Homo sapiens: one gene and its partner. The protein of the gene in region 2 interacts with the protein of the main gene of each other region in a pairwise test. Each region holds a gene or a part of one and is shown on either strand. Other genes may lie near its edges.

The links.
Region 1: the proteins of LRRC25 (region 2) and CNIH3 interact in binary tests that used the Homo sapiens proteins (3 or more experiments, as listed by UniProt).

Annotation. Positions count from the first base shown.
Region 1 is NC_000001.11:224,724,282-224,731,324, reverse strand, and holds part of CNIH3 (protein cornichon homolog 3), read right to left. Parts: intron 5,402-7,043; exon of another isoform or gene 3,460-5,401; intron 1,028-3,459; exon of another isoform or gene 864-1,027; coding exon 751-863; exon of another isoform or gene 733-750; intron 1-732. UniProt on the Homo sapiens protein: Regulates the trafficking and gating properties of AMPA-selective glutamate receptors (AMPARs).
Region 2 is NC_000019.10:18,390,594-18,394,622, forward strand, and holds the end of LRRC25 (leucine-rich repeat-containing protein 25 precursor), read right to left. Parts: intron 1,533-4,029; coding exon 1,394-1,532; 3' UTR 544-1,393; downstream 1-543. UniProt on the Homo sapiens protein: Plays a role in the inhibition of RLR-mediated type I interferon signaling pathway by targeting RIGI for autophagic degradation.

The sequences.
Region 1 (7,043 bases), on a different chromosome or scaffold from region 2:
CTGTCCCAGAAAATCCAGCCCATCTGGTAGGTGCTTTTTTTTTTATTAAGATATAATTTACATACCATAAAAGTCACCCTTTTAAAGTGTACAACTGTACAATTCAGTGGTTTTTAGTATATTCATAGAGTTGTGCAACCATCATGACTATCTAATTTCAGAACATTTTCATCACCCTAAAAAGAAAACCTTTGACCCATTAGCAGTCATTCCCTATTCTCATTCCCTCCCAGCCCCTGGCAGCCATGAATTTACTTTCTGTCTATAGATTTGCCTTTCCTGGACATTTCCTATAAATAGAATCATGAAATATGTGGCCTTTTGTGTCTGGCTTTTTTCACTGATACTTTCTTTAGGGCTTCATGTTGTAGCATGTATCAGTACTTCATTTCTTTTTATTGACAAATAGTATTCCATTGTATGGATATACCATATTTTGTTTCTCCATTTATCAGCTGATGGGCATTTGGGTTGGTTCCACTCTTTGGCTGTTGTGAATGCAACTATAGATGCTTTTAACACTGACCTACAAGGGATGGGGTTGTGGTTAATGAAACCAACAAAAAGGGCCTTTCCTTATTGGACTTGTTGCCTAAGAGCAGTTTGGGAACAGGCTTTAAAGAGAGAGACCCAGAAAGGAAGGGATGATTGGAAGGCAATAGAAGCTGTCTATTTGGGTGACATCATCACTGGAGAGCAGGCTGCCCTGGCAGAAAAGACGAAGGATATACCAGTCCCAGTCTGACTTACCTCCAGAAGTGATAGAAAAGTAGAGGGACATTCAGCCCCAGCGTGAGCCACTCTTGCGCACACAGGAACATAATGCAGAAGAGGCTATGGATGGAGTATTCTGGCAGCACCAGCTGAAGAGGGAGCAGAGACACGGCCCTGAGTTAGAGGAGGAAAACGCCACTCCTGCTTCTATGGCAGCTGACTTCTGCCTGGACACTGCCTCTCACAGACGGTTGACACAAAGGCCCTCCCTGCAGCAACGTAGAGCCACTGCCCCAACACAGATCCATTTCTGGTAAGTTCTTCTTTTTATGGCACTCCTCTTTTTATTATACCCAAACCCAAATGACACAAGCCCTCAGTGCACTGCTTACTATTAACAGAATACCACGCTTGCTCCTAGGGGTCACCCATGGATGGCCACTGGGAAGACTGGAAGAGCTGGTCCAGCCCATGTGTCATCTGACCCAAGGCAGGACCACTAGGAGAAATACTGCAAGGGTTTCTAATGAATCCATAACTGCCCTGCTCTTGTTTTTCTGGCCCCTGTGTATCCTCCTATAGTAACTCACAAACCTAAAGTGAATATGTACATTTATCACAAATATAGGAGGGTCAGGAAAAAATGGCCAGCCTCAGAAGGCAGTGGCATTTTGCCTGATGGTGGATGGAGCAAGAGGAACGCGAGAAAAACAACAATTAGCAATGATGAAGAGGGACAGTGTAGCCTCTGGGGGAAGAGGGAAGAAACTGATCCTGACCAAGAAAGGCCTGATGGTGGGAAGTGTGACCAGCAGGAAGACTAAGCTCTCCCACCTCCAATCCAGCCACACAGGTATAAATGGGTAAAAGGAGCTTAAAATCATTGAAAAGCTGCTCCCAAGGGTAACTTCATTTTATCAGAAATCAAAGTTGTAAGCTAAAGGGTAACTGTAAGGAAGAAATTTGGCACCTAGACCAGCAGTAGGGAAGGCTACAGATATAAATGCACCATTTTACCCAGTTATATAGGGAGATATAGATACATATTACTAAATATATTTATTTATATAATATATAAATATACTTTGTATTGTTTAGGCTCTCATGAATACTTTGTTCTTCCCATCAAAATCTTTTGAAACATCCTTCAAGGCCCATCTCAAATGCCACTTACCTTTTTTTTTTTTTTTTTTTTTTTGGAGACATAGTCTTACTCTGTTGCCCAGGCTGGAGTACAGTGGCGTGATCTTGGCTCACTCTAACCTCTGCCTCCTGGGTTCAAGCAATTCTCCTGCCTCAGCCTCCCAAGTAGCTGGCATTACAGGCGCCTGCTACCACGCCCAGCTAATTTTCATATTTTTCAGTAGAAAGGGGGTTTCACCATGTTGGCTAGATTGGTCTTGAACTCCTGACCTGAGGTGATCTGCCCACCTCGGCCTCCCAAAGTGCTGCGATTACAGGTACGAGCCACCGTCCCCAGCCTCAAATGACACTTTCTATTGGGAGCTCTGCCTACCGTCCCTTGTTCCTCCACCCTCCCCTGTACCTCTGGGCCCCACAGCATGTTTTCTGACCCCCTCCCAGGGGTACTTTCCATAATCTATCCATTGTGGAGTCATCATCCTCTTCCCACCTTCCAATACAGATAGATTCCTCTGTCCAGCATTCTGCAAGCCATCTTAGCCAACGTCTATTCTTTTCTCATTTCCATTTGCAAAGCGCCTTTGTACAATGCATGGCAGTTAGGAGAGACTTAACAAATACGTGGTAAAGTGCATTGAAATGACCAAGTGCATATGTTTACAACATGGCTGGCTGGCATTAGATATGCAGCCTGTGGTTACAAACTAAGATTTCTTTGGGTGGAGAACAAACTCCCTCAAACCATCCCATTTGGGTATGGACCATGACTTTGGTCTCTCAATTTAGTTAGATGAGCTAACTACCCCAGATGGCAGACACAGAGGGAGAAACACATACGCACACATTAAAAATAAAGACATGCACAGCACACGTGTAAGACATTTTGTAACTATGGGGCACCTTCTTTATTCTCAAAGTCCAGTGTAGATGAATTGCATTAACCCTCACCTTAGACTTCTCAGGCAATCACCTGAGGAATCAGAGCAAAGGAGCCATCATTCCAGAGGTGGTGACCCTTGGTGGGTGAAGCAGGTACCACCAGCCCCTGTGAATCTCAACCACCTGGCAGGAGGGGGCACGCCATGTCCCTATTGTATCTCCTTATAGGACCTCAGAGCTGTGATAACCAATCCTATCTACCCCCAGCCAAGGCATCACCCTACCCCCTCCCATTCAAAGAGAAAGCCCACTTTCTCAGAGCTGGGTGCGCCAGCCCCGGGAGGCAGTGGCTGTGAGTTCTGCTATGCACATCTCTACATTTTCTAATCATCAGTTTCAGCCACTTAAGCTGAGGCAATTAACATGTTTAGAGACAGCCACCGTGGGCCTGAATCATCCATTATTTCTCCATCTCCATCTCCAATTCCAATGACAAATCTCTGACTGATTACAGTTTGGATTTCAGGTCCCACTCTTAATCACCACTGCTTCTTCTCTCTTTGGGGCTTGATTTATTGTGGAGGCTGCAACCTTCCAAGCAGGGAGGATTCATCACTGTCTCCACGTAGAGGAAAACTGCTTAATGCAGGCCAGCTAGTCACGGAGGTCTCCAGCCTTTTGGAGGTTGGGAAAAAAGCTGAAGAATTTATTCTGCCATTTCAGGTGGCTTCTCTAGATGACCTCTTATGCCTAGAACACTGAACAGGATCCTTACAAGTAGAAGAGGCTCCTCCAATTAATCCAGAGACTTTTAGGAGTGACAGTGACCTTTTGATACACACACTGATCCTTGCCTACTTCACCAGCTGCTTCTTGTCACAATGATGTGGAAGAGGTAAGGAACCTCTTCCTTCTAGACCAAATGGAAATCAGCCAGGCCATTTGCATGAGGCCTGCACCATAGCCATTATGGCTGCCTCCACTCACACCCAGCACTCAGCCTTCTGGAAGGTGGTAAGGTCTCATTTTCCAGCTCTCAGGGGTTGGGGCTGCTGATGGGCTGTGGGCAGAAGTGATGTGGAGAGAAGGCCAGACCACTTAACGGCTGATACAAAATTCTCCAGAGTCTCTTTTCCTTTTCCTCTGACAAAGCAAAAAGCATTTAGGATGGTGGGTACTCCATCATCCTGAAGCCACAAGTAAGGAAAGAGGCCCCCAGGCAACTCATGATGGACTAGAGTGTGAGCAGTAAAGAAACTTGTGTTGTTTTAAGCTGCCAAGAGTTGAGTGTTGTTGTTGTTGTTGTTGTTTTGCCATAGCATGATTTAACCTATCTCATATGATACCATCAGCAAGCCCCAGACTGAGTAATCAATGGGAAAAGCAAAGTTGTGCTCTTCACTGTTTATCCTCCCCCAACCATCCACTCAGCCCTTCCTTAACAAGCCATCGAGGCCGGCAGGACACAGCTCCCTGTCACCGGACATGCTCGGGCAGGGGCTGAATAACCACCAGGCAGGCATAATGCTCATTCATTTGTGTGGGCAGTCAGACCAGGCGTTCCCTCCCAACTCTGAGAGTGTCTGTTATATAAGGACCACCCCTAAAGCTTCTAAGCAAAATACAGAGATGCTGATGCAAGCGCTCACCACAGCCCCATGACCCTGAGTCATCCCTTAGCTTTGGAAAACACTTTTTTTTTTTTAATAAGAGAAGCTGTTGAATGGTGCCAATCTCATTCTTTCAACAAATGGAGAAACTATTTCATGCAAGCCACAGCCTATTGAATTGCCATGTATTATTACCCTGCTTTCTAGAGTCATAAATCCTAAATCTCAATATAAGTATTGTGGGATTACTGAAAGACTGCAATTCATTCCAACCAGGGGGATCATGGAAGGTTTGTGATCAAAGGGAAGTTGGAAAGGGCGAGTAAAACCTAATCACTTATGGGAACCAGAGGTCGGCATCCTAGAAGTGGAACAGTGAAAGCAAAAGCATAGAGAGATGGAAGTCACTGGTCTGGGGTGGCTCCTTAACAAGGCCACCTCAAAGGGCCCCTATTAAAGGACATTAATGATAACCGGTAAGGACTGTGTAAACGCTAACTGTATTCCACCTGTCCTGACTTCCTACCCAGATGCTAATAGTCAATTTTCATTTGCTGGCAAACATTTCCACCTGGATATCCCACAACCACTTTGTGCTGAAATTCACATTCCTATCAGTACCTGCAAACTTTATCTCCTAAATTTCCAACTTCTACTAACCATACCATCTCTGACTCCTTCTTCTCATCAGTCTCCATGTAAGTCTGTTTCCAAATCTTGCTTCTTCACAGCCACTTGCATTTGTTCCTTCCTTTTTATTTATCCTGCCCCTGGACCTCCTCTCCAGGCTGGTGCAAGAACCTTCTAGCAGGTTTCCATCCCTGCACACATGTGCCCTCCACCCAACAGAGCAGTATATGCCATGCTCAGCTCAGCTGTAAGCCATTGTCCACAATCTTGTTTTTCCAGGAATTTTACTTGTCTGCATTCTAAATATTTTATTTCTAGTTATGTATCCTCTCATTCATTCATGTATCCATTTGTTTGCTGTTTTATCCCATCAATGACCTGCAGCTGATTGGTACCCTTTATAGATTATGAAAACAATAGAATCGTGTGCCAAGTCCTGTCTTATTTTTACTACTGTGGTGGAGAGGGGCATCAGGGGTTGTGGGAGAGATTCTTCTTACCCCTAAAGGAAAAGAAGTAGGAAGGGGATGCTTGGAGTTGAAGCAAGGGAATAATGCTCCTGGTGGAGAAAAGGGATTCCTTAAGACCAGGGGAAGGGAGAAGATGAGGGAGATGAAGAGGCAGCAAGCGCCCCTGTTGTTGGAGATCCGTCTGCTCCTGGCTCTCATCATGCATTCCAAGGGCATAGGTTTTCTGAGGGGCTGGTGTCAGCATGCCTGGGACCAAACACTTTAAAAGTCACAGCTATGGAAGCCACAGGGAAGCTCCTGGCACTGAGTTTATCTTGAAGACAGTAGAAGCTGTGAGACTCAGAGTCTCTACCCATCTCTGAATGCCCCTGTCGACTCAGACAACAAGCTTTACAGCTGTAATCCCATAAGTCTCAATATATTAGCCCAGTGTCTCAAAGCATTATATAAATTCCTACAGTTACATAATACTCAACTGTGTGCTATTTAGAAAAGCAGCTACCCATGCTGAGTCTTATTTTACCCATCTGTAAAATGCCATACCTACCAGCCAGGGACACAGGATGTACTATGAATGACAGTGCTCTCAAAAGTGAAGAAGCCTCCAGCAAAAGAAGACACCACTATTGTTATTGTGTTGTGATCATTATTATCATTATTATTTTTTCTGAGATAGAGTCTTGCTCTGTCACCCAAGCTGGAGTGCAGTAGCACGATCTTGGCTCACTGCAACCTCCACCTCCCAGGTTCAAGTGATTCTCCTGCCTCAGCCTCCCGAGTAGCTGGTACTGCAGGCATGTGCCACCATGCCCGGCTAATTTTTGTATTTTTAGTAGAGATGGGGGTTTCACTATATTGACCAGGCTGATCTTGAACTCCTGACCTCGTGATCCACCTGCTTTGGCCTCCCAAAGTGCTGGGATTGCAGGCATGAGCCACCATGCCTGGCCGGTCATTATTATTTTTAATAATCATATACTAGATGATGACCATTCTCAGGTAGATAACTTGTTGCTCTTACCGTGAAAGTCAATGAAATGACCCAGAACCAGAGTTGGTTTCCTGATTTTTCAATTCAGTCTCCTGACTCCCTCTGATTGAACCAAGCTCCAGCTTCCTCAAGTGGGAAGAGAAACCAAGGGCTGTTTCAACAGCCTGCCTCTCAAATCATAAAAAACCTCAATCCTTGCCTGTTTTCAACAGCAATAATCCAGTTCTGTGTGTCTGCCCTAAGGTTTATTTGCCCCAGGAGCCAAAGAGTGTGGAGAAAAAGATACTATATCTTTTATTTGATTCCTCAGCCCATACTAAACTGGCCCTAAAACAGAGGATCCCTCTGGGATGCCCCGGACGAAGTCAGTATTCCCAGCATGGAGATCATTCTCCATTTGTTCCCAAATGAATAATCATGCACGTGAGCATCTCCAAGCAATGTCAGGAAACTACATTCTGGGCCCCTTTGCTCTCAGGAGGCCACATGCTCTTTAATCACTCTGGATGAAGGTCGTCTTTGGAAAGCCTGCACCAGCCTGGGCATCCAGGAGGGCTGCCCAGCCCCATAGGCCTTGCTGTGTCAGGGACTAGCAGCCAACCTCAA
Region 2 (4,029 bases):
CTGTTGAAAATGGGCACCTAGGAGGCTTCAAAATTAAACTCAATACCAAAAGGCAGCAGATGGTGTCACTGAGTCTTTCCCCAAACAACAGCTGTTGCCTTTGCAAGGTATAGGGCTGGGCCTGTGCCTTCTCTGTGCTTCTCCAGGCTCTTGCACAAGTTGGTCCACCCAGCCAGCATGCCCTTTCCTCTCCAATTCTCAAACTCCTATGCATCCTTCAAAACCCACTGCAGATTCCCCTCTTACATGCAGCCTTATTCAAACTCATTCAATTGTCTCCATGTGGGGACTGTGCTCCCATTCTTCCCTTTGGCCCAGGCTTGATCTCCCAGGACTGAGGGTACTTGTCTCTAGTTCTATCTCCCCCAGGTTGGAGGATTGGGCTGGGACCAGCTGATAGGAAACCCAGTTGAGGCATGAGCCTGAAAAAACTCTTGAAATACAGACATCTGTGAGTCATTAACTCTGCCTGAGAAGAAACCAGGGACAGCTTCTCAAAGGAGGTGGCATTGCACCAGGGTCTTGAAAGATTTTCTCAGAATATTAGAGCTAAAGGAATATATACATTTTTTTATTTTGGGGTTGGTGTGGGCTGCTCTGGAGGCCAAGCCTGGAGATCAGGGACCTGGGAAGGGGCCCTGAGAGGGGCAGAAGGGAGGAATGTGCCTGGGCGCAGTGGCCACGCCTGTAATCCCAGCACTTCAGGAGGCCGAGGCGGGCAGATCGCTTGAGGTCAGGAGTTCGAGACCAGCCTGGCCAACATGGCGAAACCCCATCTCTATTATAAATACAAAAATTAGCTCGGCATGGTGGCGGGTGCTGTAATCCCAGCTACTCAGGAGGCTGAGGCAGGAGAATCACTTGAACCCAGGAGGCGGAGGTTGCAGTGAGCTGAGACCGCAGCATTGCACTCCAGCCTGGGTGACAGAGTGACACTCAGTTTCAAAAACAAACAAACAAACAACAACAACAAAAAAAAACAGGGATGGGAGGTGGGGAGCAATTTGGGAGTCTCAGATGGAGACTTGGTCTTAGAACTCAGAAATCCCCACCTTGAGGAACCCACGCACCCTGAGCCAGCAGCCTCATCAGCCTCGAAGCATTTATTGAGCACTGCCTGTACATCCACAGGAGGGTGATGACAGGATTGGCACAGTGACCGTCCTGTCCCCTTGTTGGGGGTCTCTCCTCTTCCCCCTCTAGGAGCTGAGGGAGCTGAGGAGCGGCATGAGGGACAGGGAGGGGGCGGCAGAGCTTCCTGGGGCCTCAAGGACAATCCTTTCCTGTACCCATTCTTCAGATGGGGAAACTGAGGCCATGGAGGCGTTAGGACGCCCTGAGTCACCCAGCAGGGACTGAAGGGGTTCTGGGTGGAGGTTAGGACATCTTAGGCTCAGTGCCCGGGGATCACGTACTCCTCTTCATCCATTGGGGCCTGGCCCAGTGACTGCAGGTTACAGTAGACAGGCTGGGAAGCCAGGTCGATGTCCTTGTAGTTGATGTAAAAGTCATTGTCCTCTGAAGGGTGAGCCCTGGGGGGACAGACAGACCAGGGGTAAGTGTGGGAGGGGGAGGACTCAGGGGACAGGCACATGAGCTTTGAGAAAGTCCAGAGTGGGCCAGGTGCTCTGACTCACGCCTGTAATCCAGCACTTTGGGAGGCTGAGGTGGGTGGATCACCTGAGATCATGAGTTCAAGACCAGCCTGGACAACATGATGAAACCTCGTCTCTACTAAAAATACAAAAATTATCCAGGCATGGTGGCACAGGCCTGTAGTCCCAGCTACTCGGGAGTCTGAGGCAGGAGAATCACTTGAACCCAGGAGGTAGAGGTTGTAGTGAGCCGAGATCGTGCCATTGCACTTCAGCCTGGGAGACAGAGCAAGACTCTATCTCAGAAGGAAAAAAAAAAAGAAAGCTTCAGAGTGGCTCAGTCCACCCCGAATATTTACATATGGGGAAACTGGCACGGGCTAGCGTTCTGACTCCTAGCCAACCCCACCTCTCTCTGAGGAGGCTGCGGGAGGGCAGTGATTTAGGGAAGGTTCTGTGGGTGTAACGCTGCGGTCTGAGGACCCTGAACCCTTTTTCCTTCCTTAAAAATGAGATAGCGGCCAGGCGCGGTGACTCATGCCTGTAATCCCAGCACTTTGGGAGGCCAAGGCAGAAGGTCTGCTTGAGGCCAGGAGTTTGAGACCATCCTGAGCAACAGGGTGAGACCCCATCTCTACAAAAAATTAAAAAATTATTCAGGCGTGGTGACGTGTGCCTGGAGTCCCATCTCCTCGGGAGGCTGAGGTGGGAGGACCGCTTGAGCCCAGGAGGTCGAGCCTACAGTGAGCCGTTATCACACCACTGCACTGCAGCCTGGATGACAGAGGGAGACCCCGTCTCAAAAAAAACAGAAATTGAGGTAGCTGTTCATTATTACATTAAAATCTAAATTTTTGTTTCCTCTTGAAAAATCGGAAGCTCTGGCCACGTCAGTCACATGCACACAAGTGGCTGCACCCACACTCTGTGCTCCTTCCGATGGGAAATGTTTTCACCACTGAAGCAACTGACTTTGTGGCCCTCATATATAAAAGCAAGTCTCTGAGCCTCAGTTTCTGCATCTATAGAATTGGTCAAGGAGCAGGTAGCTACTTAGGAATATTTGTTATGGTCAGCAAGACCTCCAGAGAATTTTCCTGCCTCCTGAACATTCTAATTCCAACCCAGCTCCTCTTGTAAAAAGGGCCACTGGGCCAGGTGCGGTGGCTCACGCCTATAATCCCAGCACTTTGAGAGGCCAAGGTGGGCAGATCACCTGAGGTCAGGAGTTCAAGACCAGCCTGGCCAACATGGCAAAACCCCGTCTCTACTAAAATTAGCCGGGTGTGATGGTGGGCGCCTGTAATCCCAGCTACTCGGGAGGCTGAGGCAGGAGGCAGGAGAATCACTTGAACCCGGGAGGTGAAGGTTGCAGTGAGCCGAGATCATGCCATTGCACTCTAGCCTGGGCGACAGAGCGGGAAAAAAAAAAAGGCAAAAGGGCTACTTTGTGTTAACAGCATCTATCAGTCAATTATACTCTAGTACGAATTGCCCACCAACCCCTAAGTGGTTGTAGGGGGACGAACAGGTCTGGGACGCAGGGTTTGTGTCCTGCCTTTTTTGACTGGCTATGTGACCTTGGACAAGTCATTTCCCTGCCTCCCAGAGCCTCCATGTCTGTAACTGTAAGATGCAGGGTGGAAATGACACAGTCAATTCTAAACACAGTGTTTCTGGAGGCCAGTACATAAAGGAGGCTGATCCGGAAGCCTCGGGGACAGGGAGGCCAAGATGAACATCAGAGCACAAGCTGCTTTTGCGAGTCCAGTGTCTTCAACACCCTGCCTCAGACCATTTCTGCTTTTGAGCCATGTTGACATCTGCTTTGCATATTTTCTCCTTTCTCACCAACAGCCTTCCGATAGCCTCCCCACCTCCTGGCACGGACTCTGCTGCCCAAACACAGCCATGGCCGCGGCCCCTTCCTGCTTGGCCCTCCCTGTTCCCCTCAGGCCTCAGCTTTCAAGTCATCCCTTCTCAAAAACCATTCACAGCAAATTCTCTGTTCTTTCCCACCTCTGGGTCTCTGCCCCTGAGGGTCCCACCCCTTGAAATTCCCTCCATTCCCTTTTCCAACCTAGAAAAGCTTTTCTTTTCTTTTTTTCTTTCTTTCTTTCTTTTTTTTTTTTTTTGAGACGGAGTCTCGCTCTGTCGCCCAGGCTGGGGTGCAGTGGTGCGATCTGGGCTCACTGCAACCTCCACCTCCTGGGTTCAAGTGATTCTTCTTGCCTCAGCCTCCCAAGTAGCTGGGATTACAGGCACCCACGACCATGCCCGGCTAATTTTTGTATTTTTAGTAGAGACAGGGTTTCACCATATTGGCCAGGCTGGTCTCGAACTCCTGACCTCGTGATCCTCCTGCCTTGGCCTCCCAAAGTGTTGGGATTACAGGCATGAGCCACCGTGCCCGGCCTAATTTTTGTATTTTTTA